4 linked regions of the Homo sapiens genome follow. The protein of the gene in region 3 purifies or fractionates together with the protein of the main gene of each other region. This does not show direct contact. Each region holds a gene or a part of one and is shown on either strand. Other genes may lie near its edges.

What was found.
Region 1: the proteins of MTX2 (region 3) and CARD19 purify together in Homo sapiens (co-immunoprecipitation; 3 studies listed by BioGRID and IntAct, with this or other methods). This does not show direct contact.
Region 2: the proteins of MTX2 (region 3) and CHCHD6 purify together in Homo sapiens (co-immunoprecipitation; 4 studies listed by BioGRID and IntAct, with this or other methods). This does not show direct contact.
Region 4: the proteins of MTX2 (region 3) and MTX3 purify together in Homo sapiens (affinity purification with mass spectrometry; 2 studies listed by BioGRID and IntAct, with this or other methods). This does not show direct contact.

Annotation. Positions count from the first base shown.
Region 1 is NC_000009.12:93,098,696-93,107,141, reverse strand, and holds part of CARD19 (caspase recruitment domain-containing protein 19), read right to left. Parts: intron 1-8,446. UniProt on the Homo sapiens protein: Plays a role in inhibiting the effects of BCL10-induced activation of NF-kappa-B. May inhibit the phosphorylation of BCL10 in a CARD-dependent manner.
Region 2 is NC_000003.12:126,720,569-126,729,014, reverse strand, and holds part of CHCHD6 (MICOS complex subunit MIC25), read right to left. Parts: intron 1,938-8,446; coding exon 1,829-1,937; intron 1-1,828. UniProt on the Homo sapiens protein: Component of the MICOS complex, a large protein complex of the mitochondrial inner membrane that plays crucial roles in the maintenance of crista junctions, inner membrane architecture, and formation of contact sites to the outer membrane.
Region 3 is NC_000002.12:176,327,563-176,336,008, reverse strand, and holds part of MTX2 (metaxin-2), read right to left. Parts: intron 7,717-8,446; coding exon 7,624-7,716; intron 7,136-7,623; coding exon 7,097-7,135; intron 6,709-7,096; coding exon 6,583-6,708; intron 5,426-6,582; coding exon 5,349-5,425; intron 1-5,348. UniProt on the Homo sapiens protein: Involved in transport of proteins into the mitochondrion.
Region 4 is NC_000005.10:79,975,168-79,981,660, reverse strand, and holds the end of MTX3 (metaxin-3), read left to right. Parts: 3' UTR 1-4,945; downstream 4,946-6,493.

The sequences.
Region 1 (8,446 bases), on a different chromosome or scaffold from region 3:
AGGGACACAGGGCTCAGGGTGGCCTGTGCTGGGATCACCATGGGACACAGTGTGTCTGCAAGGCCTTAAGAAGCTTCTACCAACAATAAACCAGTGAGTTCTCCCAGAGGGCTAGAAATGCTTTTCATTTGCCTTTTTTTTTTCCAGAATCACCATTAAAATATCATTTTACCACCTTTTCCATTAAGAATGTTTCTTAGAATGGCAGATGTTTAAGGCTGAGCGGTGGAGTGATGACGGAAGGGCATGGAGAGGATGGGGCACAGGACCCCCACAGGGACTGAACAAGTGCATCACCCTACATACTTGTGGCAGCTTGTCCTGTTTCCCCATGTACACAAAGAAAATATTTATAGAATATAACACAAAAGAAACTGAGAAGGGACTCTAAATGTGTTACTATAAAATATCAACAAAACACAAAAGAAGGCAGTAATAGAATAAATGAGGGTCAAAAAAGCTACAAGACATACAGGAAACAAATAGCAAAATGGCAGTAGTAATACATTCCTTATCAGCAATTACTTCAAATGCAAATAGGTTAAACTTTGTTTTTTTTTTTTTGTTTTTTTTTGAGATAGAGTCTTGCTCTGTCACCCAAGCTGGAGTGCAGTGGCCCAATCTCGGCTCACTGCAACCTCTGCCTCCTGGGTTCAAGCAATTCTTCCTGGGATTACAGGCATGTGCCACAACACCCAGCTGGTTTTTGTATTTTTTTTTTTTTTTTAGTAGAGACAGGGTTTCACCATGTTGGCCAGGCTGGTGTCAAACTCCTGACCTCAGGTGATCTGCCTACCTCAGCCTCCCAAAGTGCTGGGAATACAGGTGTAAGCCACCACACCCAGCCAAATTTTCCTATCAAAAGGCATAGATTGGCAGAGTGGATTTTTAAAATATGATACAACTAAGTGCTGTCTACAAAAGACTCACTTTAGATCTAAAGACACAAAGAAGTTGAAAATGAAAGGATGTAAAAAAAACCCATACAAATAGTAAACAAAAGAGAGATGAGGTAACTATACTAATATCAGACAAAATAGACTATAAGTCAAAAACGATTAGAAGAGATTAAAAAGTACATTATGTATTAATAAAAGGATAAATTCATCAATAATATGTAACAGTTATAAACATATATGCACCAAATATCAGAGCTTCAAAATATATGAAGCAAACACTGGCAGAATTGAAGGGAGAAATAGATATCTCTATAATAATATTTGGAGACTTCAAAACACCACTTTCAGTAAGAGACAGAACCACTAGACAGAAGATAAATGAGGAAACAGGACTTCAACAACACCGTAAGCCAATTATACCTGGCAGACATACACAGAACACTCCATACCACAATAAAGAAGAGATATTTTTATCAAGTGCACATGAAACATTCCCCAAGATAGGCCACAAAACAAGTTTGTAGCCACAAAATAAGCTTTAATATATTCAAAAAGGTTGAAATCATATAAAAAATATTTTCTGATCACATAGAATGAAACCAGAAATCAATAATAGAAAACTAAAAAAACTCACAAATATGTGAAAATTAAACAGCCAATGGGGCCAGGCATGGTGGCTCACACCTGTAATCACAGCACTTTGGGAAGCTAAGGCAGGCAGATCACTTGAGGCCAGAAGTTTGAGACCAGCCTGGCCAACATGGCAAAACCCCATCTCTACTAAAAATACAAAACTTAGCCGGGCATGTTGGCGCACGCTTGTAATCCCAGCTACCTGGGAGGCTGAGGCACGAGAAATCCTTGAACCTGGGAGGTGGAGGTTGTAGTGAGCTGAATTTGTGCCACTGCACTCCAGCATGGGTGACAGAGCAAGACTCTGTCTCAAACAAACAAACAAAAAACCAATGGGTCAAAAGAGAAATCATGAGGTAAATTAGGAGGTAACATGAGAAAGGCAGAAACACACACACACACACACACACACGCACACACACACGCGCGTGCACACACACACACACACCTTACACCGCGCTAAAACCTAAGGGATGCAGCAAAAACAATGCTGAGAGGGAAAATTATAGTTGCAAATGCATATATTAAAAAAATCTTAAATCAGTAACCTAACATTACACCTTAAGGAATGAGAAAAGGAAAAAGTAAAGACCAGAGAGCTTGAAGAGCAAACTAAACCCAAAGCTCACAGAAGGAAGGATATAATCAAGATTAGAGTGAAGACAAATGAAATAGAGAATCGAAAAACAGTGGAGAAAAATCAAGAAAACCAAAGTTGATTCTTTGATAACATCAATAAAACTGACAAAACTAGCTAGACTGACAAAGAAAAAGAAGACTCAAATTACTAGTATCAGGAATAAAAGTAGGACATTACCATGAACTTTACAGAAATAAAAAGGAATATAAGAGAATACTATGAACATTTGTATACCAATAAATTGGATAACGTAAATAAAATGAAAACATTCCTAAAAACACAATCTACCAAAACGGAACTGTGAAGAAATAGAAAATCTGACCAATAACTAGTAAGATTAAATCAGTAATCAAAAATGTCCCAAGAAAGAAAAGCTCAGGACCAGATAGCTTTGCTGGTTAATTCTACCATATATTTAAAGAAGAACTAATATAGCTTTGCTGGTTAATTCTACCATACATTTAAAGAAGAACTAATACCAATCCTTCTCAAACTTACAAAAAAAACTGAAGACGAGAGAACACTTCATAACTAATTCTATGAGGTCAGCTTTACCCTGATACCAAAATCAGACAAAGTCACTTCAAGAAAAGAAAACCACTTTGGGAGACAGAGGCAGAAGAGTCACTTGATGCCAGGAATTCAAGACCACACTTGGGCAATACAGCAAGACCTTGTCTCTGTGAAAAAAGAAAAATGGAAAAGAACACTACAGACCAATACTCTTTATGAATATTGATGGAAAAATTAATAAAATCCAGCAAATCAAATTCAGCAGCATATTAAAAGAAGTATACATTGATTTATTCCTGGAATACAAGGATGGTTTAACATGTACAAATCAAAAATCAATCAATGAAATATACCACATTAATAGAATGAAGGAAAAAATACATGGCCATTTCAGTTGACATAGAAAAAGCATTTGATAAATGTCATCATTCTTTCTTGATATAAATATTCAATTAATTAGGTCTAGAAGATGCTATGGTTTGAATGTGTCAACAAGCATGTATTGGAAACCTAATCCTCAAAGTAACAGTACTGAGAGATAGAACCTAATGGGAGGTATGTAGGTCATGAGGGCTCTACTGTCTTGAAGGGATTAATGCCAATTATAAAAGGGCTTGAAGTTTCAAATTTGTTTTCTTCCTCTCTTGCTCCCTCTCATTCTCTCTAGCCCTTCTGCCTTCCACCATGGGATAACACAGCAAGAAGACCCTCACCAGATGCTAGCTCCCTGATCTTGGACTTCCAAAACTCTAGAAGCATGAGCCTATAAATTTCTGCTCATTATAAATTCCCCAGTTTCAAGTGTTCTGTTATAGCAGCACAAAATGGACTAATACAGAAGGAAATTTCATCAACATGATAAAGGCCATAGAGTTGGCACTCTATCTCTGCAGTTTCCATATCCAGGGATTAAATCAACAGCAGATATAAAATATTTGGGGAAAAGCAATACAAAATAACAATACAACCAAAAAAATACAAGTTTTAAAAATACAGTACAACAACGATTTACATAGCATTTACATTGTGTTAGGTATTATAAGTAACCTAGAGATAATTTAAAATATATGGAAGGATGTGTATAGGTGCAAATATTATAGCACTTTATATAAGGGATTTGAACATCCTCAGATTATTTTGAGGGGATTCCTGGAACCATCCCACCTCATATATTGAAGGACATTTTTATATGAAAAGCCCACAGCTAACATCATACCTTAACGGTGAAAGACCGAAAGCTTCTTAAGATCAGGAACAAGATAAAGATGTCTGCTCTTACCACTTCTATTCAACATAGTACTAGCAGTCCTAACTAGAGCAATTAGGCAAAAAAAGGAAAAGGGAATAAAAGGCATCCAAATTGTAAAGGAAGAAGTAAAATTTTCTCTGTTCACAGATGACATGATTTTATATATAGAAAACCCTAAAATCTTTTTCTTTAAAGTTAGAGCTAATTAAAAGCATGCAGCAAGGTTGCAAGATATAAAATCAACACACAAAAATATTTCATCTCTACATACTAACAATGAACAATCCAAAAATTAAGAAAACAACTCAATTTATAATAGCATTGAAAAGAATAAAATACTTAGGAAAAAATTTAATCAAGAAGGCAAAAATCTTGTACACTGAAAGCCACAAAACATTGCTGCAAGCACTACCCAGAGCAATCTACAGATTCGATGCAATCCCTATCAAAATCTTAAGTGTTTTTTGCAGAAATAGAAAAACCCACCCCAAAACTCATATAGAATTTCAAGATACCTGTATAGCCAACAACAAAAATCTTAAAAAAAAAAAAAAACAACAACAGGGTTGGAGGATTCATATTTCCTGCTTTCCAAACTTAGTGTAAAAATATACAATAATGAAAACAATGTGGTACTATCATAAAGACACACATATGGGTCACTGGCATAGAATAAGAGAGTCTAGAATTAAACCCTATTTTTAATTAAAAGAGTGGAAAAAAAGAAAGTGAAAAAACAGTTCACATAAATGGAAGAAATATTTGCAATGCATATATCTCATAAGGGATTAGTATCCTTACTCCATAAAGAACTCCTACAACTGAACAGCAAAAGACACAGAGAACCCAATTCAAAAATAGGCAAAGAACTTGAATAGACATTTCTCTAAAGAAAATATACAACTAGCCATCAAGCACACAAAAAAATGCTCATCAGGCCAGGTGCAGTGGCTCACACCTGTAATCCCAGCACTTTGGGAGGCTAAGGGGAGCAGATGACCTGAGGTCACCTAAGGTCAGGGGTTCGAGACCAGCCTGGCCAACATGGAGAAACCCTGTCTCTACTAAAAATACAAAAATTAGTCGGGCATGGTGGTGCGTGCCTGTAATCCCAACTACTTGGGAGGCTGAGGCAGGAGAATTGCTTGAACCCAGGAGGTGGAAGTTGCAGTTAGCCGAGATGGCGCCACTGCACTCCAGTCTGGGAAACAGAGCGAGACTTGGTCTCAAATTAAAAAAAAAAAAAAAATGCTCATCATTAGTCATTAAGGAAATTCAAATAAAAACCACAATGAGATATCACTTCGTACTCATTAGGATAGCTATATATTAATATAACAAATGTTGGTGAGGATATGGAGAAATTCAAACTCTTTGGCATTAGTGGTGAAAATGTAAAATAGTGCAGCCACTGTGGAAAAAAACAGTATGGCAGGTCCTCAAAAATCTAAACATAGAATTATCCTGTGATGGCCGGCACGGTGGCTCACACCTGTAATCCCAGCACTTTGGGAGGCAGAGGCAGGCAGATCATGCAGTCAGGAGATCGAGACCATCCTGACTAACATGGTGAAACACAGTCTCTACTAAAAATACAAAAATTAGCTGGGTGTGATGGCGGGTACCTGTAATCCCAGCTACTTGGGAGGCTGAGGCAGGAGAATCGCTTCAACCCGGACGGTAGAGGTTGCAGTGAGCCAAGATCATGCCACTGCACTCCAGCCTGGGCGACAGTGAGACTCCGTCTCAAAAAAAAAAAAAAGAATTACCGTGTGATCCAGAAATTCTACTTCTAGGTATGTACCCTAGAAAACAAAAAGCAGGAACTCAGTCGAGGGTGGTGGCTCACACCTGTCATCCCAGCACTTTGGGAGGCTGAGGTGGGCAGATCGCTTGGGGTCAGAAGCTCAAGACCAGCATGGCCAACATGGCGAAGCCCCGTCTCTACTAAAAATACAAAAAGCTAGCCAGGCGTGGTGGCACTCGCCTGTAGTGCCAGCTACTCAGGGGGCTGAGGCACGAGAATCACTTGAACCCAGGAGGCGGAGGTTGCACTAAGCCAAGATCACACCACTGTACTCCAGCCTGGGCAACAAAGTGAGACTCTGTCTCAAATAAATAAATAAATAAATAAATAAATGCAGGAACTCAAATGGATACTTGCACACTGGTTTTCATAGCAGCACTATTCAAAATAGCCAAAAGATGGAAATAGTGCAAATGTTCACCAAAAGACGAATGAATTATCAAAATGTGGTATATACCTATGTACAATGGAATATTACTCAGCCCTAAAAAGGAAGGAAATTATGATACGTGGATGTTACAACATGGACGAACCTTGAAAACATTATGCTAAGTGCAATAAACAAGGCACAAACGGACAAATATTATATGATTCCAATTATATGAAGTACTTAGAGGGGTCAAATTCATAGAGACAGAAAATAGAATACAGATTACCAGGAGGTGTGGGCAGAAGGAGAAAGGGGAGTTATTGTTTAACGGGTACAAAATTTCTGTTTGGGATGATAAAGAAGTTCTGGAAATGGCCAGTGGTGATGACTACACAACACTGTGAGTGTATTTAGTATCACTGAAGTGTACACTGAAAAAATGGGTAAGAAGGTAAATGTTATGTTTCCATATATTTTCTCACAAAAAATGTAAATGGATAAATAAACTCTGGTTTATCCATACAACGAATATTATTCAGTGCTAAAAAGAAATGAAGGCTGGGCGCGGTGGCTCACGCCTGTCATCCCAGCACTTTGGGAGGCCAAGGCAGGTGAATCGTTTAACCTGGGAGGCGGAGGTTGCAGTGAGCCGAGAGTGCGCCACTGCACTCCAGCCCAGGCAACAGTGAGACTCTGTCTCAAAGAAAAAACCAAAAACAAAAACAAAAACAGTGTCATCATGTTGAACACAGTGGGGCCCCCTCTTGGGTTCACTCCTTGAGGCACAGACTCAACAGACTGTTTTACTTTGTCATGTCTCTTTCCAGTTGCCACTTCCTCCTGGCTGGTCTTTCTGTACCCCAGAATGTGGACCCACCCCAAAAGCAGCCATGCTCCGTGGGGCCCTGTGCAGACCCTACAGACTGAGGCCCAGGTGAGAACAGCCCGTCTCAGTACGCTCGCCCTGTGCGGGGCTGGGGACCACGGTGATGGGCAGATCCATCCTCCAGGGGCTCACAGTGTAGGGGTGCGGGCTGGCATTCACCAAGCAAACCCACAAACGTATCCTTAACCCCAGAGATACCTGCCCTCCAGAGAACAATAGGGGGGCCATCCTGGTTCACAGGGCCCCTGATGATGCCCACATTGAGGCCATCAGCCACTCCATCATCTGGCTGAAGCCACTCACCGTGGGCCGCGCAGGGAGGCAGATGGCTGGGGGCTGGAAAGGCTGGCTCAGCCCTCACCTGCACTGAGTCCCACAGCAGCCTATGCGGACTTGCCAGCAGCCCCATCATGGTGAGGAAGCTGAGCACAGGGACGTCAAGTGACCTGCCAAGGCCACATGGACAGGCCCAGCTGGGCAGTCTGGGTCCAGCGCCTGCAGCCCTCTCGTTAAAGAACTAAGATGAATTAGCCAAAATTCACAGAGCAATCCCATATGTCTGGCACTCTGTGAGCCCTACGTCACCTACAACCTTCATCCTTCCAACAGCTTTGCAACATAAGGACAACCACCAGCCCCATTTTCAGGTAGGGAAACTAAGGCACAGTGAGAAGATAAGGTACCTGCCCAAGACTGCAACCAGATATGAAGTGACAGATCAAGATCCAGGCCCAGGCACAGCCATGTTGAGGACCACCTCTTGATATTCAGACGTTCTGCCTCTCTAATTAACATGGAAATTCACTGTAATCAGCTACAGCAGTCTACTCCCTGCCAGTCCAAAAGCACGCCCAAGGCTGTCCTCTCCAGCATTGCCCACTTGGCTGAGCACCCAGTAGGTGCTCACTAAAGAGTTCTGCAGGCCGGACGCGGTGGCTCACGCCTATAATCCCAGCACTTTGGGAGGCCGAGGCAGATGGATCATGAGGTCAGGAGTTCAAGACCAGCCTGGGCAACATGGTGAAACCCCATCTCTACTAAAAATACAAAAAAAATTAGCTGGTCATGCTGGCACACGCCTGTATTCCCAGCTACTCAGAAGGCTGAGCCAGCTACTCAGGAGGCTAAGGCAGAAGAATTCCTTGAACCCAGGAGGCAGAGGTTGCAGTGAGCCAAGATTGCACCACTGCACTCCAGCTTGGGTGACAGAATGAGACTCTGTCTCAAAAAAAAAAAAAAAAAAAGAGTTCTGCAATGTATGGTCCAAGACCCAGGGGCAAGGGCTGTAGGTGGACCGTGGCCAGCATCCTGTAGTGGCTTCCTCCTGCCCTGCAAGCCGCTAACCAGGCAGAGCCTCCGCTGCTGCAGAGCCATGAGTCACCATGAGCCGTGAGTCAGCTGGCACAGGCCGCACGGTCCGGAGGCTGAAGCCAGGCTCTGCGGCTTGGG
Region 2 (8,446 bases), on a different chromosome or scaffold from region 3:
GAGAAGAATTTAATTTTAATTTCTTTTTCTAACTTTGTTCCATCACTAAAATAAAGCAAAAACTGGTTTTAAAAGTACAAAATATCTTAAAATTAGTTAACTTTAAGACAGTCCATTTATGCTGACTCTTCAACATTCAGAAACAAAACTTACACCTATCATTTAAACAGCAAAGTACTTTGTTATAATTAACTCCAAGTGACAAAAGAACCACTGTTCTTGCTTTCTAAACTGCTGGAACTTACCAAACTGAAGCAAATGCTTCTTATTTCTTCTAAAGCTGAAACTGATGTGTAGTATTATATATTATGGCAATTTTCGCTTTTATCATCACTTTCTCCCTCTTTCGAGTTAATCCAGTTTGTTAAAGTGCATTGGGTCAAGTTAGACTCCTCTTAAGCCCTTCTCATCAGTTAGTTAGAGCCAGCGTGGGGAGTAAGTGAGCCCTATTAGTAAAGGACAAGGGCTTCTTGGAGGGTTTTCGGGAATCTCACACATCCCCTACAGTGGTAGATATTCAGAAAGATCTTGGGGTGGGTCCAAATCCAGGTGCTGACTGGCTCCTGGGCAATGCTTCTAGGCCCCCGAGCAGGCTGGGATGCACCCTGTCGCCGGACCTCCGCTCCTGCAATCTGCCCATTCGCAGTGCCCACCCACCACCATTCCTCCTGCCTTTCACAGTCCCTCTTCTCCCGTGAGCCTGGTACAGATTCCAGTGTTGCATCACAACATGACACATAACTCATCAGTCTCCATAACCAGAGCCAGGTGTGCCATGAGAGAGGGTCCCTGCCCACCTATCACTGTGTCTTGGCACAGGGCACAGGACTTGGTTCTGGGTGGCCTTCAGTAAACACTAAGTGGGCAGGATACAGCTCTCATATTCTAAACTCTTTCAACCCAACAGGGAAGATGAGTAGAAAAGGCAACTGTAACGCGAGACCAGGCCCAAGAAGAACAATCTAGTGGGTGGTTATCCACCTGAACAGTCGGTCCTTCCGTGGTGGCATGCTGCCTCCAGCCAATCTTTTTTTTTTTTTAATTGAGTTACGGAATCTGATAGACAGACCCAAGTTCTCAAAAACAAGTATGTTTTGAGCAGTTGCTCCAAGGACTTTTTTATTTTGTAATATTTTAACATTTGTATGCCTTAGAACTTTTTTCCTTAAAATTTTATTTCCTTGTGTTTGCTACAAGTCGTTATTTGGGGAAAGCACAAATTTCTTCATTTGCAACACGCACAATACAGTAGGGAACAAATCAGCTTTGAGCCCGGCTTGAGCACCAGCTTCACAGTGGGCCAGGAAGAGGAACTCCTAGGACCCCTCCTAGAAGCCCAGAGGGAACCATTCCAAGGGCCAGGACAGGAGCTCTCGGCCTGAGGCTCAGGTGAGGGCTGCTGCGGTAGGCGCCTAAATCACTGACGGAATTCTCCTATACTTGGCCCTGTTCACGTGAATCCACATCATTCTTTGACTTGGGAGTTAGGCTAGAGTGGCTGAAGCTGAGTCATGGCTATGCCGCCTCTGAGGAGCCTTAAAGGCAACTTCTTTCCTGAGCTGTCAACTCAGGTCCTTCTGCCTCAATTCCCACATGGAGAAAGTGGCACAGAGGGAAGGTGGTCCGACCCGAATCCCGGCAGCTCTGATGACAGCCCCATCACTCCCAGAAAGCCATGCTCTTCCGGAAAGCCCTTACCAGACAGAGCTGCTTAACGTCATCCAGAAGCCAACCTGAGCCCTGTGCGCCATCAGGTGGGCTCGGGTGAGCACCCATCACTCCTTTCACTGTCTCTCCACACTCCACAGAACTGTCACAATCCCCATACCTTTGTGAGGGGCTCTCAAGTTGCCATCTTGAAGGCCAAAGGTAGAAGATGTGGGAGCAGGGGGTGGAGAGCTGGGCTCCTTCATGCGGTTCACCACGTTTTCAGACAGCTAAGGAAGCAGAAAAGAGGGAAAAGAAAAAGTTATGTCACAGAAGTGCCTGGAAGCAAAGCCTCCTCTTTATTCAGGCCCCAGATTTACTGAATGCGCTGCTTCCTCAAGACCAACTCCAACAAAGCAATTCTACTAAAACTCCTCTCGTGGTGGCCCAGTGCCTACCAGGTCCATGCTGAGCCCATCCGGATTCCCAAGCCTACCAATATATGTCCCCTGCTGGCTTTGCGGCTTTACCCCCACCACTTCCCTCCACACACCCAGTCCTCAGGGGAACCTGATGTCTCACTTTTCTCACCTCTTCTGAATTCAGGCATGCTCTTCCCTCTGAACCACCTCCAGCCCACCACCTCCCTCTCTGGGACATCTCCACCCATCCAAATCATATCCTTTCTTTGGAGGTATCTCAATGTCCCCTTCTCCAGGGAAGGCTGCTCCTCGACAGCATGCAAGTGAAGCACAGGTACCTCCTTCTATCACATTTCTCTTTATTCCACTTTGCAGATAACACATTTTTTTTTTTACAAGTTGAAGGTCTGTGGCAAGCCTGCATCAGGCAAGTCTACTGGTGCTGTCTTTCCAACAGCATGTACTTTGTGTCTCTCAGTCATGTTTTGATAATTCTCATGATACTTGAAGCTTTTTCATTGTTATATCTGTTACAGTGATCTGTGATCAGTGACATTTCATGTTACTCTTGTAATTGTTTTGGGACACTGAGAACATTGTCCATGTAAGACGGCGAACTTAACCGATAAATGCTGTTGTGTTCTGATGGCTCCAGCAATGAGCCATTCCCCGACCCCTGTCTCTCTCCCTCTCCTTGGGCCTTTCTATCCCCTGAGACACAACAAAATTAGGCCAATTAATAACCCTGCAATGGCCTCTAAGTGTTCAAATGAAAAGTCCCATGTCTCTCACTTTAAATTAAAAACTACAAATGATTAAGCTTAGTGAGGAAGGCATGTCGAAAGCTAAGATAGGCCGAGAGCTAGGCCTGTTGCACCTAACAGTTAGCCAAGTTAGGAAAAGTTGTTGAAAGAAGTTACATGTGCTACTCCTGTGAACACATGAATGGTAAGAAAGTGAAACGGACTCACTGCTGATATGGAAAAAGTTTTAGTGGTCTGGATAGAAGATCAAACCAGCCACCGTATTCCCTTAAGCAAAAGCCTAATCAAGCCCAAGGCTCTCTCTCTTTTCAATTCAGTCAAGGCTGAGAGAGGTGAGGAAGCTGCAGAAGAAAAGACTGAAGTGAGCCAAGGTTGGTTCATAAGACTTAAGTAAAGACACCATCTCCATAACATAAAAGTGCAAGGTGAAGCAGCAAGTGCTGATGGAGAGGCTGCAGCAAGTTATCCAGAAGATCTATGTAAGATCATTGATGAAGGTAGCAATACTAAACAGAACAGTCTTCTACTGGGAAAAGATGCCATCTAAGACTTTCATAGCTAGAGGGGAGAAATCAATGCCTGGCTTCAAACCTTCAAAGGACAGGCTGACTCTCTTGTTAGGGGGTAATGCAGTTGGTGACTTTTAATGGAAGCCAATGTTCATTTAGCCTTCTGAAAACTCTAGGGCCTTTAAGAATGATATTCAATCTACTCTGCCAGTGCTCTAGAAATGGAACAACAGAGTCTAGATGACAGAACATCTGTTTACAACATGTTTTACTGAATACTTTAAGCCCACTGTTGAGACCTACTGCTCAGCAAAAAAGAATCCATTCAAAATATTACTGCTCCTTGACAATGCACCTGGTCACCCAAAAGCTCTGATGGAGATGTACAAGATGAATGTTATTTTCATGCCTCCTAACACAGCATCCATTCTGTAGCCCATGGATCAAGGAGTAATTTTTACTTTCAAGTCTTATTATTTAAGAAATTCATTTATAAGCTTAGAGCTGCCATACATAGTGACTCCTCTGATGGACCTGGGAAAAGTAAACTGAGAACTCCAAGGAAAGGACTCACTATTCTGATGCCATTAAGAACATTCATGATTCATGGGAAGAGGTCAAAAAATCAATATTAATAGGAGTCTAAAAGAAGTAGATTCCAACCCTCATGGATGACTCTGAGGGGTTCAAGACTTCAATGGAGAAGTCACTGCAGATGTTGTGGAAACAGCAAGAGAAGTAGAATTAGAAGTGGAGCCTGAGGATGTGACTGAATTGCTGCAATCTCAGGATCAAATTTGAACAGATGAGGAGTTGCTTCTTATGGATGAGGAAAGAAAGTGGTTTCTTGAGATGGAATCTGCTCCTGGTGAAGATGCTGTGAACACTGCTGAAATGACAACAAAGGATTTAGAATAGGATCATAAACTTAGTTGATAGAGTAGCAGCAGGGTTTTAGAGAACTGACTCCGATCTTGAAAGGAGCTCCACTATGGGTTAAATGCTATCAAACAGCATCGTATGCTACAGAGAAATCTTTTGTGAAAGGAAGAGTTGATCGATGTGGCAAACTTCATTGTTGTCTTATTTTACAAAACTGCCACAGCCAACCACCATCCTGATCAGTCAGCAGCCATCAACAAGGAGGCAAGACCCCCCACCAGCAAAAAGATTATGACTCACTAAAGGCTCAGATGATCATTAGCATATTTTGCCAATAAAGTATTTCTAATTAAGGTATATACACTTTTTAGGCATAATGTTAGTGTACACTTGAGACTACAATATAGTGTAAACACAACTCTTATATACACTAGGAAACCAAAAAGTTCATGATTTGCTTTATTTTGATGTCCACTGTACTGTGGTATCTGGAGCCACGTCTGCACCATCTCCCAGGTGTGCCAGTATCACCTTTTCCCTTCCTCTGAGCCCCCTGACAACACACATGTGCTTCTCAGAGAAGTACTACACCTCCTGCCTGCCTATCCTGATGGTTTTTAAATACCTTGAGGGCTAAGCCTGAATCTCACTCATCTCTGTACACCTCCAGTGCCACACATACAGTAGATAATCAAATACTGCTTGACTAATTTCACCTCAGTTCCCCTAATGAAGACTGGATAACCAAAACTCTCATTCATTTAGAGGATGTGAAATAGGCCTAAGGGTGTCATAAAACAGTTTACTGAGATGAAACAGCAAGCTGGGGATCAATCCAGGATAAAAATCCTTAAGAGTTCACTTTAGTAAATATTTATTAAGTGCCTAATATGTGCAAGGCATCATAAAACACAGCGGAGGGAAAGACATTAAAAATTACTGTAAGACAAAAGACATGATCAGCAACTCCACTTCCAGAATATCTCACTGAGAAAACTACTCCCCCATGTACACAGAGGCATGTGGAAGGACACTCACTGTGACACCGGAGGAAATAGGGAAAAAAGAAAAGGAAATCACATAAACATCCAACAGATAGAGAACTGACTGAGAAAATTTCGGCATATACATCCTATAGAATTTTATGGAACCATTAAGAAAGAACAAGGTAGAATACACATACACTGTCACGGAAAACACATGAGATATACTGCTGATTGTTTAAAAAGTCATAGAATTTTTTGCACATCTCAATTTTGCAAAAAAAAATGCAGACATACAAATATAAATGTTGCTGAATTTGAATATATGCATATACACATATCCGCAAGTGTGAACTGCATTTGGATTTCACATGCATGCACATAAGACACATATACAGATCTGCTCCAAGGAGAAATCTACAAAACTGCTTAGCAAAGTACTCAGAGGATGAGGTCCTGAAAGTGGGGACAGGAGCAGCTGGGGCAGGATTTTCACTTTTGGAACTTTTGCATCTTAATTTTTTTACCATGAACATTTCCTTAGTAACAAAAGATTGTAATAATAATAATAATAATAGAGTCCCTGTAGTATTTAAGATATATACAATCAAATAACTAGTTAATGACATATGACAAGAGAAGACCAAACATATCAATGGAAGGGAATAAGGAGGCCATAAAGAAACCTTTATCTCTATGGTCAGTTGATTTCAACAAGGGTGCCAAGATGGTTCAGTGGGGAAAGAGCGGTCTCTTCAACCAATGATGCTGGGACAACTGGATATCCCTTGCAAAATAATATAGTTGCACACCTACCTTACACCATATACAAGAATTAATACAAAACAGATCCGAGACCTAAACATTAAGAGCTAAAACTATAAAACTCTTATTAGAAAACAGAGGGCTAAATCATTATGACCTTGGCTTTGGCAATACGTTCTTAGAGATGACACCAAAAGCATGAGCAATGAAAGAAATAAATAAATAATTGGACTTTTTCAAAATTTTAAAGTTTTGAGTACCAAATGACACCATAGGGCAACTGAAAAGACAACCCACAGAATGGGAGAAAATATGTACAAATCATATACCTGATAAGGAACTTTTATCTAAAACATATAAACACCTTCCAGAATTGAATAATAAAATGAAAAATAATCCTACTTAAAAATGGGCAAAGGATCTAAATAGAAATTTTTCCAAAGAAGATATACAAATGGTCAATAAGCACAGGAAAAGATGCTCAACATCATTAGTCTCTAGAGAAACACGGGTTTAAACCACAATAAGGTACCACATCACACCCACGAGGATGGCTATAATTAAAAGGTCAACGTGTAAGGGTCAGCCATAGTGGCTCGCATCTGTAATCTTAGCATTTTGGAGGGCCGAGGCAAAAGGATCACTTGAGACCAGGAGTTTGAGACCAGCCTGGGCAACACAGTGAGGCCCTTTCTCTAAAAAACAAAAATTTTTTTTTAATTAGCCAGGTGTGGTGCCACATGCCTACAGTCCTAGCTTCTTGGGAGGCTGAGGCAAAAGGATTGCTTGAGCCCAGGAAGTCATGGTTACAGCGAGCTATGACTGTGCCACTGCACTCCAGCCTGGACAACAGGTGAGGCTCTGTTTCTAAATAAATAAATAAATTTTTAAAGTCAAATTATAATAAGTATTTGCGAGGATATGGAGAGTTACCACTTGATATGGCAATTCCACTTCTCATTGTACACCAAAGACAAATGAAAACATGTGTTCACATCAGCATTATCTGTAATAGCCAAAAAATGGAAAGGACCCAAATGTTCATCAACCAATGAATGGATAAGTAAAATGAAGTATATCTATACAATGGAGTATTATTCAGCCATAAAAGGGAATGAACTACTGACACATTATAACATGGAGAAACCTTGAAAGCACTACGCTAAGTGAAAGGAGTCAGACCCAAAAGGCCACACTGTGTGGCGTATTCCACAACAGGCAAATCTCTAGACACAAAAGTAGATTCGTGACTGCCTTGGGCTTGGGGAAATGCAGGGACCGGGGTGGGGACTGATAGCTACAGGGTAAGTAGGATTTGGTGGGGAGGGTGGGGGGTGGGGGTGATGAAAATGTTCTAAAAATGATTGTGGCAATGGTCACACATACCTGTGAATACACTAAAAACTATTAAATCACATGCCTTAAATGGATGTATTGTACAGCATGTGAATCACATCTCAATAAAGCTGTTACAAATAAAAAGGGAGAGAACACCAAAAACAAAGAGAAGCAGCCCAGACAGGAAGTCAATGAGAACAGCACAAGGAGGGATTCCAGTGGCCGGAAGCAGCCAAGAGAGGGATGGGTTCCCTAAGGCAGGCGCAGACTTAGACACAGGAGAAGCTCCATCCCATGGGCGGGACGGCAGCGATGTCTGCAGAAGGCAGAAGCTTCATAGCCTAGGGCAGGGCACCGGGGAAGAGGCACAGACAGGAAGAGACCGTGCGCCTGCCGCCATAGGTTCACTTTGGAAGGCGTGGGGTGGAAGGACTTGGATGAAGCCAGCACAGAAGGAAGCTTGGAAGTCAGGCAAAGGGAGAGGTCCAACCATCCCGAGGAGACGCTGAAAGTTTGTGAGCAAGGAAACATCACCACGGCCTGCGTGGGAGGTGGGATGAAAGGCTCGTCTGGTGGCTGCCCTGACTGCAGGGAATGAACGAGAGCACAGAGTTGAAGAAAAGGAGTTTTGATCTCAAGTTCGTGGAATAATTTGCGTGAGAATGACAAAGAAAGGGAGGAAATTAAGAAAATTATTCTAAGAAGGCAGCAGATCCGTTTGATTGTAGGTAAATACAAAAATCCCACATTGTAAAAGGGAGAAACCTTCCCAAGTTTGCCCATTTGCTCCTTTTTTGCGGCTGTAGCAACTAAGACCCTGAGTGAGTCAGTGTATGGGAGAATGAGGAGAAACATCTAAAGCCCCAAGTCCCCAGTAAGCACTTAGCCACATGCTGAGGGTGGAAACAGGACACCAGGCTGGGTGCGAAGTGACAGCAGGAGCAACGTGGAACATCTTTCTCCATAGGTGGGGACACGGAGCCAGCACTCAAGAGGGAACACTTCAGAGAACTTCCTGAAGCCAGCACTTCAGGGAACACAGGCTGAACAAAAAGATCTGGGCATCCAAATGGTGGCTGAAACTGGCTAAGAGCTCATTTTTAAATTTTCAGGAAACATGTGCTGGTTGACTTCAT
Region 3 (8,446 bases):
GCTATGTGGCCTTGAACCCTATTGATAAGTAGTCTCCTAGAGATGCATGGCTTTAAATACCATCTTGATGCCACTGACTCCTAAATATTTATCTCTGGTCCTAATGTCTCCCCTGAGCTCTGGATTCATACATTCAAATGCCTACATAACATCTCCACTTCAATGTGGAGTATCTGTGGAGCAGGATGTGGAGCATCTTGACTAAGATGTGTGGGATACTTTATTTTCTCAATAGCAGTAATTTACAGTATCCCAAACCTGCTTGTCCCCCAAACTTCCCAAAATAAAAGGCACCACTATCCAACCAGCTGTTCAGGCCAAAAATTTAGGGGCTACTCTTGAGTTCTTTCTTTCACCCTCCTATATCCATTAGCAAGTCTGGTGAGACACTACCTCCAAAATATGCCCTGAATGCCACCACTTATTCTTCATTATGATTTCACAGTGTAACCTACCATCATCTGTCACCTAGACCACTGAGATAGCCTCCTAAAGTGTCTTACTGCTTCTACTCATTCTCCATACCATGGTCAGAATGACTAATGTCAGCAGATCATACCAACTCCAAGCACAAAATATTCTAATGGATTTCTGTTCTACTTATACTAAAATGCCAAACTCCTTACACTAAGCACACAGAGCCTTGATAATCTGGCCTCTGCCTGCCTCTTTAGCCTCATATCCTACCATTCATAGCATACAACCCAAACTGGCCTTGTTTCTTGCATTTGAACGTAACAAACTCAAGCCAATTAGGGAACCTTGACTATAACTATTCCTGCTGCCTAAAATACTCTTCCTCTGACTTCACACTGGCTCCTTATTTTTTAGAATAAGGTTTAAATGGCACATCTTAAAGTCTCCTCAGACCACTCAAATTAAAGTGGACATGTAGTCACTCCTTATCATGTGGTCCTTTTTTAATTCTACATTTGATAATTAATACCATATAATTTTTTTTTTGCTTATTGTGCATCTCCTCTACCAGAAAGTCCTGTAGAGAAAGGACCTCACCTACTTGGTTCCTGCTGTAACCCCAATACCTAGAACAATTCCTTGCACAAAGCAGGAATTGTGCAATAAATTTGTGTTGAATGAACCAATAAAAAGGTGACACACTTCTCATACCATATTATAACTGTGTTCACTTAACTGTTTCCCTCACTACACTCCAAGCTCTTCAAAGGCAATGCTGTATATATCTTTATATTCCCAGTTCTTAGCACAGTATCTAAGGAACTGAAGTAGCACTTGCCGAATAAATACATGAATTAAAAAAGAAAGCATCCTAAGATGTGTGGAATATTTAATTTTCTCAATAGTAGTAACTTACATTCTTTGAAAGCCTTCCACTCTTTTGACATTCATGAAGTGTTAATCAAAGTCAAATGTGCAATCTATGGCCATGTTTAAATGGGTAGCCAACAGTATAGTTTTAAAAAAAAAAATCTCAAGGGTCCTTAGACTCAACAGCACCATAATCTTATCATCACAGGAATGAACCAATAATGAATAGATCCCTGCAAAAAACCAAGGATGTAGAGTGGATAAATGGGGAGCTGAGCTGAGGCACTTGGTGAGAATAATACAAACACCAATTCTTCCACATCCTTAAACATATTTCTTAAGAGGTACATCTTATCTTACCAATTTAGAACTTATTTTCCTAATCCTTGTTTAGTGCCAGCTACCCTATACTTCTTGTACTAGAGCCTAAAAAAGGTGCATATATTCTCTGATGCAACTTCCAGTAGTATAGATGGGCACCCTTTATTAATAAATGAAGGCTCTGAAAGAGTTCAACTATCAATGTATGCTCAAATGAGAGTGCTCCAGAAGTACCCCTGAAGTGGTTTGTTGCAAATATATATCCACATAACTCCAGAGGTACTGAATTATATATGGGCATGAGCATATAAAAACTGATCTGATTTTACATAAAGACAGCAACTTTGTGGCAAGTTACTTTAGAACATCAACAGAAGTAGAATTCAACAGATTAAACCAAAGCACATACAGTTGTGTGTTGCTTAACAGGAATACATTCTGAGAAATGCACTGTTTGGCAATTTTCTCACTGTGTGAACATCATAGAGTCTACTTACACAAACCTAGATGGTGCTATACACCTAGAGTATATGGTACACCCTATTGCTAATAGGCTACAAACCTATACAGCACATTGCCAAACAGAATACTGTAGGCAACTGTAACACAATGATAATGTGTATTTATGGTACACAAATACTTGTGTATTTAAACATATCTAAACACAGAAAAGGTAAGTAAAAATATATTACAATCTCAAGGGACCATCATCATATATTTGGTCCATCACAGACTGAAAGGTTGCCATACAGGGCATGACTGTATATATCCACACACACTAACCTTTAAAGCATATTTTTTGTAATTTTTCCAAATTTGAGCAACTCCTTACACTGACTCTGACATATATAAATTACTGATTCCAACAAGTCTTTTTAAGAAGTACAAATAATATTTTAGTTGATAGGTGACAGTTACACAACTGTATGCCTTTGTTAAAATTCATAGAACTACACGCATAAAAGTGCCAATTTTACTAGATGTAAATTACACATCAATAAACCTGACTTAACAAAAAGACAAGTAACATATTTTATCCAGTATTTCTACTGAACTATTTAATCAAGTCAAGATCTTCATATACCTCCAATTTTAATTATCTTGCTATATCACGTGAAGAGAAAACACAACTTTCTACCCTTCTGCTTACCAAATAGTTTGTGATTATAATTCAAATATAGATAGCAATTCCCCTCCTATGAGCTCTAAGATGTTTCATATATTATTGCATTTATCTTTATAGACTTTTTATTAGAAAAATATTCCAGGGTGACAAATATATTTTTAAAGTCCTAAGAAATTTGATGCCTTCTTACATTATTATTCTTTCCACATTCCTGTTGGTTATCTACTATTTTTTCATTTGAATATCAAAACAAAAACAGTAAAATTCAACGTTTTCATAACATTTTCCATTTAAGATTTTTCTGGCACTCAGTAAAATTCAACATTTTCCTAACATTTTCCATTTAAGATTTTTCTGGCACTCATATTTTTTGCTTTGCTTATTCATTATTTCACATTTATTTCTCTCTGATACCTTCATAGTATCATCTATATTAATGCTTTCAAAAGCATTAATTTTGTCTGAGTGTTTCCTAATTGTTCTTTCCCATTAACTTTTCATCTCTTTATAGTACTAGAAATAATCTACGTTATCTTTTCTTTACATCCTAATCACTTATCTTTAGGGCTGTCACCCAAGTTTTGTAAATCAAGCCCCTTGCTTTTTGGCCTCTTTTCCCAATTATTATTCTTTCTGTGAGATCTCCCTTAACTACCCTTTTCCTTTTCTCTCATCAAGTAACGGTATTTGGTTTCTTTCACGAGTCCTCCCAACATCCCCAGTAGTTGAGCTAGAAGGAAAGTTAATTCTAATTTTAGGGGATTAATTCTAATTGTAGGGGGTTAATTCTAATTTTAGGACTGGCATACACATAGAGAAATTAGAGTAACTTAGAGATATGTCAGAGCCAAGAATAGAATTCAGACCCTCTGACTTGCAGTATAATACCTGACTTAGGCCACAGCTCTATTCAACATAGTATCTCACAAAGTAATGACTCCTGCTACAGATAAAGGAATGAGAAAAATGTTGGCACAAGGAAGTGAAATACCAGTTACTTTTTTCTAAATGTACTTTATTTGCATTTTAGTATTAATTAAATGATCGAATAAAATTAAAAATCAAATCTCTTCTATCTTTAATCTTATTTTTAGGGAAAATGTTTATCTAAGTATCACGCAAAGGAAAATTATGTCAAAACTCTACATCATAATATCAATTAAATAGTTCCTCAAAAGCAAGGCTTTGGTGTTTGAACTGTTCTAAGTTAGAAGTTTTCATCACAAGTGTAAATGTAATTGTGCCCTTATGAAGAAAAATGATATCTTGATATTTCCACTGAGTCACATGCCAAACTCTGGTTACTAACACAATGACAATGAGTTTAACTGAGAAGAAAAGTAAGTTAGATCTATTCTCCTGGCCTCCTCTAAAGACAGTGTGCATAACAAAACTAAAATAGAATAATGCATTTCAATAAAACACACCCCTTCTGAGCTTTTCAATTCCTAAGAATTCCTCTGTTAGAAAGAAAAGAAATCACGTAATATTGACATTTGGATACATTTCTCTTGTGTTAGGGACTGAAAAATAGAATCTGTAGAGCAAACATCACTAGAAACAGGAACAGAGTTGTAGAAGCTTTACCCACCAGAATTTCACAGTTTGAATTCTGAAGATTTTTCTGCTTCAAAGATCAACAGAACCCAGATTTTAATATCAATTATATATGTATATATTACTTGTGTTATAGATTAATATAACTTAAATATTTCCAAACTATCATCATAGCCATTTTTACTACAAATATTATCTTTACCCAAATATGTTTGATATGGTTATAGAAGAGGAATGCTTATGACGATATAACACATAATAGCAAATAAAGCCTTTTAGAAATTATTAATCTAAAAATCAAATAATTTTTATTAAAATGTCAAGAAAAGGTCAGACTTTCTAGGGAAAGTTTTGAGATTAAAATGCTTTAAGCCCATCTTACACTGGATCACAGGACAGCTGATTCTGATATATTAAAATTGTAATTTTTTAACAACGGAAAATTCATTCTTTGCCTTCATTAGAGTCTTTTCAAAACTGCAAAAGCAAATCTATTAATGAAACATTATTCAACTTACATATATACACATATATTTAACCTATATCCTTTATATTAATTTCTGTGTTTTACAAATATTTTCATTAACATTTTAAAAGATAAGTTCATAATAGTGCTTGTCCATCAAACAATATTTTTTAATATTTAGTTTTATTGACTCTTCTAATCCTCCAGCTATCATTCTATATAGAAAACCATAGTTACATTAATAGTAACTTACTTTCCTTCATGTTTAATAGTACAAGTTTAGAATTTTGTTAAGATTTTGTAGTTCCATGTATAGCACCTTGAACTACCTCATTAAAACCTTATCATACAATGATTGATTTACATGACTGCCTTTAAGAGAAATTCTTAATGATAAGGACCATATTTTAGAAATCTTAGTCTCCTAGAGCCTAGCACTGTGCCTGAGAGTAAAGTGCCACAAAAATATTTGAGTACAAAAATTATAAAAATAGCTAAATATTTTCTTGAAAAAGCAATTCTTTTATGAAAAAAAGAAATTTGCAACCTAACAGTACAGAAAATTAACTTTAAAAAAGTAAAATTTCTTACTGCTTATTGAAGAAATACGGTTGTGTTCCCAGTCTTTGAGAGAGAGCTTGACAGCACTGGTCTACATCCTCTAAGACCTAACACAGGCAATGAACCCCAAGGAAAAGTATTTCAATTAGCAAAACAATAAAAAGTATCTAAAACGTAACTTGTATCACAGTTTATAACAAAAATATAAATTTAAGTTAACCTTTTATAATATATTTTAATAAGACCATAGACCACATATATATATAATACTTTCTATATAAGAAATACTTATAAGAAATACTTTCTATATAAGAAATACTTATAAGAAATACTTTCTATATAAGTATATATATATAATACTTTGTATACAAGAAATAGGAAGAAATTCTCAGTGAATGTCCTTCAAAATACAAGTACATTTAAGTTACTTATAAGGATTTTGTCAAGAACAAAAGTGTCTTCCTGAATCCATATATTCAAATGGCTTTGCATATACCAAAAAATCTGCTTAATAAAGGTAACAACATTGACCCACTATGAGTAAAAGCATTTGAGTTATTTTCCCACTAGTGGAGATAGATTTTTATTTATTCTATCCCTATTCATTTACTGAAACCCCCTTGTAGCCAATGGCACACATCAGTGAGATGGCTGGCTAGTATTAAGGGTAGCCTTGGAAAAGACGGGCATTAATTAACTTAATGATGCTTGTGGACAAGATAAGTATTTTTAAGTTTTGCTACTTTAGTAGCAAAAATATAGATAGACAGATAGATAGACAGATAGACAGATAGATAGACAGACAGACGGACAAAGTACTGTATTTAACAGGGCTTTTTTTTTAAGCCCTGATGCTGCAGATCTATATTTAGTTACATAAAAGGTGCCCACAATGTATTGTTCAATTAAAAAAAAAAAAAAACCCTCAGGTTATACAGTAGCAGGCATAATGATCCCATTTGAGAAAATGTTACTAAGAAACATCTAGAAGAAGGCTCTCCAAATAGTTAAGGGTGGTATTTTCTAGGTGATGAGATTTCAGGCAAGTTTTATTGCTTTTTTACACATATCTGCATTGCATTGTTTGCTTTACATCAAGCATGTATGATTTTTTAGAAATAAAATTACTTCATGTTAGTGAAAATCACAGGAAATGGTTTTCTTGCAAATCTTATATATATTTTTTTAAAGGAGTATCAATATAAAGAATGATTCTTTTAATGCATAAAAGTTGAGGGTTTTGTCAACTTCAACCTGAACTGACCTGGTCCAGAGTCTTCTTTCCCCATCCAATAGCTTTCATCTTACGTTTGACTTCCCACTGTTTTTGATAGGCCAAAATATGATTCAGAGGCCAAGGGTAAGGAGATCCATACCTAGCATGAGTGATCTAAAGTAAAAAGATTTTGTAAAAAAGGTGATCCTTCCTAAAAACAATGCCCGTTTTTACAAATAGAATTCTAAAAGAAATATATTTTCAGAGAACATAAATAGAGCAATCTGAAAAAAATACACATCCTGCAATCTAAAAAATTAAAATTTTAAGCCATTCCCTTTAAAAATATATAAACTTTTATGTACTTTGCAACCCGTTATATCAAACAATGACACATAGCTTCCCTAAAATGTTATGTGCAAGCAAAATTAAAGTAAGTGAAAAACTATATCACTAATGGTATAAACCACAATGTTTCATTTATGAGCAGGGACTTGCGATTCTGAGCAAAAGTGTTTTCTCATTAAATTTTAATTAAGATAAATGTTACAGAACCACTCACCTCCCCTACTGTAGCTTCATCACACCACTGAAGATACAGCTAGGAACAAAAGAACAGTCACTAAACTTTAGAATACCAAAGAGGAAAAGGATAAAGAAAGTTATTTTTTGCCAAGGCAATTTTTTATAAGCTAATTTCATAAGTCACACATGTAGCGGTTTGTTTTTCTTAGCTGCTATCCACAAAAATGTAATGATGGTACGTTATAAAAATATTTTTTATTCACACAATACATGTCTAAATACCATTAAAGTGTTTTACAGATATTATTTAAGCAAATTTCAAAAGGCCAAAGTAAAATAATGAGTAGGCAAGAATCACTCCTTTTTATAAACAGAAAAACTAGAACTGAAAATGTCAGGTAACTTGTTCAAAGGTAATAATCAAATAATTTAGGTAGCCAACTCAACTCTAGAATTACTTGACTATTTTCCCATTTCTCAATAACTTTAACCCATAAGAAAGATTATATTTTATGAGAATGAGAGAAAAAGCTTATTTTCAAGCCGTATCATCTAGTATTTTACCTCTGCAGTCAACAGCATATTGTTGACTAATTCCATGTAAGCTTTCATTTCTGCTTTTTGGACTTCCTCCAGCCCATCACTAAGAGAATGGCCCTAAAGGGAATTTAAAAAAATTTAAAAGAACATCATATTAAATATACAAAAACTTTCAGTTATCTCACTAACAAATAACGTAACATGCAACTATACAATGAATTAAACGTCCAAAATGCCCCCTAAAAATTATTTTATATAAAAGCATAAATAATACTCTGCTATCACTACAAAATATTAGTATGTACTTACTTGTCATTATACAAATGTATCTTTCAATAGAGAAAATTACACTATCAACTACTTCACAAAAGAAGAAAACAGAATGGTCAGCAAACCTTGTTTAAGAGATTAACCTTATTTAGAAATAAAGGAAATGCCAAAAGACTGACATGTGCTGTTTATAAAGTGGTCAAAGATGAAAAAAATACGTTTGTAAAGATATGGGGGGAGAAACCCACTTATTTTAAAATTCTAATACTCTATAGTTACTAGGAGATACATAAAATGATATAACCTTTAGTTCAATCTGGCAATCTATTACAAGATTTAAAAAGTACATAACCTATGACATCCTAATACCACTCTCAGGAATTTATCCTAAGGTACCAATACCAACCTTAGGAATTTATACAAAGATGTATATATAAGAAAATTTATCTTAGTACTCTATAAAAACAAAAAATTGGCCATGACCTAAAAGCCCAACAATAAACTTGAGTAAATAAAATTCTAATTTATCCAATACAGGGGGAGGGTGTTGAAGAAAAAAAAAATAATATATATATAT
Region 4 (6,493 bases), on a different chromosome or scaffold from region 3:
GATAATGCTAGGTTATGTCAATTTTTCTTTTCAACAAAACTGCTAATGTCTATTAGGAAGAAAAATGTGTTTAAAGTTTTACAGGAACGTGGAGCTCATGTTCTTCTGATATGTAGACTTTGATAAAGAAGCATACTGTAATGTTTTATGAACTGAAATTTTAATCAAAAGAGGTCATTTTAGAATAACAAGTATTATTCTTTTTTAGTAGAGGGAATGACTGTCAATATGATTTATTTGTTTTTGTGTCATCCCTACTTTGAACTGCTGTTAGCCTTACATTCTCACTATAGTCCATAATGCTTCCAGATCACCTTTTCTAAGATGCAACATGTGAGTTTAGTGAGAGTTTATATGTTGGGTTACTTAGTTGAGCTATTTATGTATAAGTAAATGAGATGACAGGAAGCTGTAACTGAGCACAAAGTACTTTAGGGAGCAGCCACACATACAGGAAGCTCTTAGAAAAGAACTTTTTTTTTTTTTTGAGACAGAGTTTCACTCTTGTTGCCCAGGCTGGAGTGCAGTAGCGCAGTCTCGGCTCACTGCAACCTCTACCTCCTGGGTTCAAGCAAGTCTCCTGTCTCAGCCTCCCAAGTAGCTGGGATTACAGGCATGTGCCACCATGCCCAGCTAATTTTGTTTTTTTTTTAGTCGAGACGGGGTTTCACCATGTTGCTCAGGCTGGTCTTGAACTCCTGACCTCAAGTGATTCACCTGCCTCGGCCTCCCAAAGTGCTGGGATTACAGGCGTGAGCCACTGCGCCCGGCCAAAAAGAACATTTTGTCAATCTGAACAGAGCACAGAACATTTTTTCAGACTGAACAGACTGTTGGACCAGCCTGTCATGATATGTTTTAGATAAAGTTTGAGTGAGTTCATTGGGATAAATGGTCCACAATCTTAAACAGAATACTGTGAGCCAATGCCTTTTGGAAGTAATGGTGGAGGATAATATGATTAAAGGGAACATGCTTGTGTTTATTTTTGTTGGTAGTATATGATTAGAAAAACTAGATAATTCCCATAAGATGAAGATCTTCCATGAACAAACTACCATCAATCATCCATCAGATTGATTTTTTTTTTTTTTTTAAGTAACACTAAAGAAGCTGTAAAGAACATTGAAGGTGGTCATTCCTTCAAAACTGTGTTTTGACCACACAAGGTGGGCATTAACAAACCAAATTTCAACTTAAGTTTGTTTGTATTATATTGGGGGTGCTGCGAGACTGGAGATTTTATAAAAGCAAGCATTTTTATTTCCATTTATAATTTCTATTCAATATTGCTAGATATATTAACATGAAGGAATGGGGAAGCTTATTTCAATCAAAGCTAAAATTTTCAGAAGTCTGTAAAAATGGAAAAACACCATTGAAAGAGGCAGAAACAGGTAAGGGGGATAGTATCTTAGAAAACCTGTTGGTTAAGGCAGCTGCATGTGATAAAAGTGGTACTTGAACTTGGTAGTGTTTCCTTAGAACCTCCTCCAAAAATATGCATTTACCAGGCTTGTTACAATTTTTTGACAGTTTTTCATCAACTGTCAAAAACTTCAACCCTTTTAAAACCTAGATATAAATGCTTACATGTAAAGAAAGGAAGCTAAGCAGTGGGTACCTGGGATCTCTCTGAACTATTTTTATAACTTCTTGTGAGTCTTAAGTATTTCAAAATAAAAGTGGTTTTAAAGTAAATTCATAGATTAAATGTATCATTATCTATATATAAACCATGATTTAAAACTTTAATTTTCTAAACATAGTATTCAACTTAGTTGAATAAATATATGATAGAAGTTAAATAGAATTTTTATTTCATTCTTAAGAAAAACTCATGTTTGTAACAAATGATATCTAAAGATCTATTTTGCCTTACCAGAAAAGAAAAAAAAAACCCTAAAACCAAAAACTCCTTTTCCCTAGGAAGTCAAAAATGCTGTGATTTAAAATATCTAATTATATTTTTTTCTTTCTATGGTAGTGGGGTTTACTTCTGAGGATAAAATATTTTGAAAAAGCTCTGTCCCTTGACATGGTAGTTCTCCCGTGCCTTGTACTTGTTCTCTCTCCATATGCACAGTGTGACAAGATGCTCACCTTTAATGAAGAAGGTGTAGCTTTTCGTTTTAAGCTGTAATTGTCTTTGTCTTGATTTGGCTATTTTTATAACTGAAATCCTGAGCAACAGAGATAATTTGGGTGGTAATGATCATCTTTTGTATATGTTCTTGATGTTAAGAAATATTTTTTGCTGCCATTCAGCTTTGTGGAATTTATGTTTACTTTTCAATATTTTCATATTTCTTAACCAGATTTTAAAGAAATTTGTTGTTAGTTACGTGAAATCAAAGGTCAGGTCAGTAAGCCCATTATCCTCAAACTTGAAGTTTCGTTGGATGTTCAAAATGCTAATTTTTGCAGAGATATAAGGATAAATTAGTTTTAGTTTGTGTTCTTAAGGGTTTGCAAAATAATTTGGCTCCCAAACTCTTGTTGGGGTGTAGTGTTTGCTAGGAGCCCAGGATACCTGCCCTGGACTTAAATTGTGATTGAAGTGGAGAGGTACTCTAGGAATTTAAAAAGACACAAAATTATTTTTTTCCAGACTAGTGTGCCATGGATTTCTGATAAGAATTAACATTCTTGAACAAAGGTATCAGAAAGGGTAACTCGAGTTGAAGGTTTGTGAATAGAAGGGGAAATGTGATAGAAGATTATTCAGAACAAAATAAGTAGACAAAATAACAAAAGACAGGAAAATAAGTCTCTTTGTATCCTTATTAATCATTTGAAATTATGCTATAATATTTTTTAAAACTCACCTGTTTGGTTCTGGGTGAAGCAGTTCCTGAAGGAGTGTTTTGTCAGAATATATTGTTAGGAGAATAGAGGGTTCTGTGGCCAAGTAAGTTTGGGAAATAGTGGGTTAGACAAAGTTGAGTTACTGTTGGCCTTTCAGACCTTTGATACGCTAATGTGCATTTTAAATCTCCAAGAAGCACCTCTATTTTATACATCATTTCCCTAATTTATTTTAATATGGATTTCTTGTTTTTGTTTTCTTGAGACGGAGTCTTGGTCTTGTCACCCAGGCTGGAGTGCAGTGGCACGATCTCGGCTCACTACAACCTCCGCCTCCCAGGTTCAAGCGATTCTCCTGCCTCAGCCTCCCAATTTACTGGGATTACAGGCACCTGCCACCACGCCCAGCTAATTTTTGTATTTTTAGTAGAGATGGGGTTTCACCATGTTGACCAGGCTGATTTTGAACTCCTGACCTCAGGTGATTCTGCCCGCCTCACCCTCCCACAGTGCTGGAATTATAGGTATGAGCCACTGTCCCCGGCCAGATTTTTTTAAAAGTAGGTATCTTGTGGGATTTATGTTCTGAGAGATACACCTAAGGAAATGCTGCCCTACAGTGTTTTTGCTAGTTCATACTCATTACAAAGGTTTCTTGTTGTTGGGTGCCCCTCTAGCCAGTGGTAGTAAAATGGGAAGAGACAGGTCAAGACTCCCTTGGACCATGGCATTGAGAGAGGGATGGCTGTCGGCATAGATATGTTGGTTATTTAGGCATTTGTGAGGGAGGCCCCTGGCTCTTCCAGCCTGTTTCCTTAGGATCCCAGTTGGCCGGGAACAGCTGTACAAGGGTCTGCTGAACTGGTGGTTTCAGCAGACTACCCAGTTCCTAAGCATCCATGAGACAGAGGGAACCAACTTGTATTTCCAGAACAATTTTCCAAACCTTTTCTGGCTGTACTTTAAAAGTGCCAAAAAGGCAATGGGTGTTTATGACACTAAAGTCACATACAAGCTAGTATGATACATACATCATAGAAAGCTTATAGTTGCTCAGTGACAAAGCAAAGGAAGTTTAATATTTTCCAGTTTTGTTCATTACCGAAGACAGTCTACGGTTCATAGTTTTCACTAAATTCTAAGCAGATTCTATATCCTAAAACATTTAAACCTCACTAGGCCTGCAATTTTGAGAGGGTTAGCTAAATATGTTTGGTATCACTTCAGAGTCTAAAACCAGATTACTAATCGTGTGTAAGGAGGCATTTTGTGTGTCTTTGCAATGTATACAATTGGATTATTTGGAACACCATTTTGAATGTGTATTTGAGAGAAAGCTCGCCTGTGGGTTTTGAGTTGTGGTGTAATGGTGAACATGTAGCCACGTGAAAGGCCGTTGGATCTTTGTTCTGATTCTTCAGTCGTCTTCTTGCAAATTCAGAGAAATGTCTTTTAATCATTTCGTTTACATATCCCAGATCCTTGGAAATCATGAAAAATAACTTGCCAGAGTTTGCATCAGCCCTCAGTAAGTCATGAACCATAGAGAAGGTCATGGGGCCATTTATTCTTTGGACCACTGGCTACTTCTGAAGTTCTGGCTTCCTTCTCTCTAGGAGGAGTCGTGTATTCAAGCTTTTAAGTTAAATGCATAAAAATGAGTTTTACTTCTCTTCTGACTTGATTTTTAATTTTATGAAATGGGAAATAATGTTTTTCCATTTTTCTGTTCATTTTGAAGTGGGAATTTGAGGTGTTTGTAATGTCATGTTACTGTTCTGAAAGATTGACAGTAAAGAAGACAAGAAATATATGTATGTAGTATGCATATTAGTTTTGTCCCACCAAGCCTATCTTTGAATGGCAAACATTTTAAAAACATCTGTTCTAGTTGCACAACTACTCTAGCTTCTTTATAAAGTAAACAATCTTAAAGTAAGCAATGTTGGCCATAATTTCAATATTCTAGCCTTGCCGAGTGTGAATATATTTTACTCAGAGACTATGTACAAATACACTAAAGTGGTGATGGTGATCAATATTGTAAAGAATTTATTCTGATAAATGAGAAACTGGATATAATGTCAAAATAGCTATTTTCTCAATAAAAATCTCAAATCTCCTGACTGCTTATGAATTCTCGATTTAATGTTATTTATTCTTTGAGGTAAATCTTTTCATCGCGAAGAATTTTTTGCTGGTTGAATGTGGTTGTTCAGGGCTGGGACTGAGCTATAGACATAGTGGGTTTTTAAAAAATGTCCATTCTTTTTTTTTTTTTTTGAGACAGAGTTTTGCTCTTATCACCCAGGCTGGAGTGCAATGGTGTGAACTCGGCTCACTGCAACCTTCGCCACCTGGGTTCAAGCAATTCTCCTGCCTTAGCCTCCCAAGTAGCTGGGATTACAGGCACCTGCCACCTTACCCGGCTAAATTTTTTTTTTTTTTTTTTGGTATTTTTTTTTTTTTTTTTAAGTAGAGACGGGGTTTCACCATGTTGGCCAGGCTGGTCTTGAACTCCTGACCTCAGGTGATCCACCCGTCTCGGTCTCCCAGAGTGCTGGGATTACAGGCGTGAGCCACCGTGCCTGGCCAGAAAATGTCCATTCTTTCTGTTATGTGTTGAGACCACTTGTGCTCTGGCCACTCCAGGCTAAGGGAGGTTAGAGGCCTGTTCTCTAGGCCACTGGTTTGTGTAGGACCTCAGATGCTCACACAACTTTGCAGGGTTATAGTTCTCTCATCCCTTCAGCTCTGTAAGTTTCTTGTAAATTATACCTTTTGCTCACCCAGATAGTATAGTGATAGTCCATTGTAATTGAATGGAAGATTTAACTGAGAAAAATAATGTAATTTTAGTTGGAGGGAAGATATTCAGGTTTTTTTACTGCTTCGTTTATGGGACAAAGTATATGGTTCTAGAGAACCCTGTCATTTATAGCTGTAGGTTAAATAAGGGCAAGTTCCCTGAGAGAATGGGTGTCTTTGCTAGTAGATTTTTTTAAAATTGAGTTGTAATTTACATATAGTAAAATGCATAGGCCTTCCAAGTAGAACTGTGTAGGTATGTAAGTACTTTTCTCACATGAGAAGCAAGCTACATCTTTGTCGATACTCCTTTCCCCAAAGAACACAAATCTTAATTACTTACGCACTTTGGGTTCCAGGTGAAAGCCCTTGGGTGGATTGAGGTGGTGAGTAATGATCACTTGCTTGCTGCAAGAGAACAGAAAAGAGGAGTTGCTGTTGTGGAATAATGGAATTATTTGCGGAAAGACAACTATTTAGAGTCACAAAGCTGCGAACCATATGACAAAGAGTTTCAAAAATGTTGGTTCTTAATTGCTCATCTCAGAGGTTTGACTTTCGTCTGAGACTATCTGGGGAACTCAGAAACTCCTGGATGTCCATACTGATCTCCTTCAGTGGACGGTAGGCTACAACACAAGGTGCTCTCTTTCCTTTGCTGCAGATAGCAGCTATTGGTGAGAAAACTCTTAAGTTTTGCCATGTTGGGATCTTGTCTTCAGTGAGTCTCCATAGCAGAAAGATCACTAAGTGCTGCACATTATGTTTGAGACAAATGTAAGAGAATGAAAAGCAAATGGTGGTGAAGAAATGTCAGGTTTTATCTTACTTAAGATCATCCTGTAGTTAAGTTCCTAGCTGTAGAACAAAGGAGAAA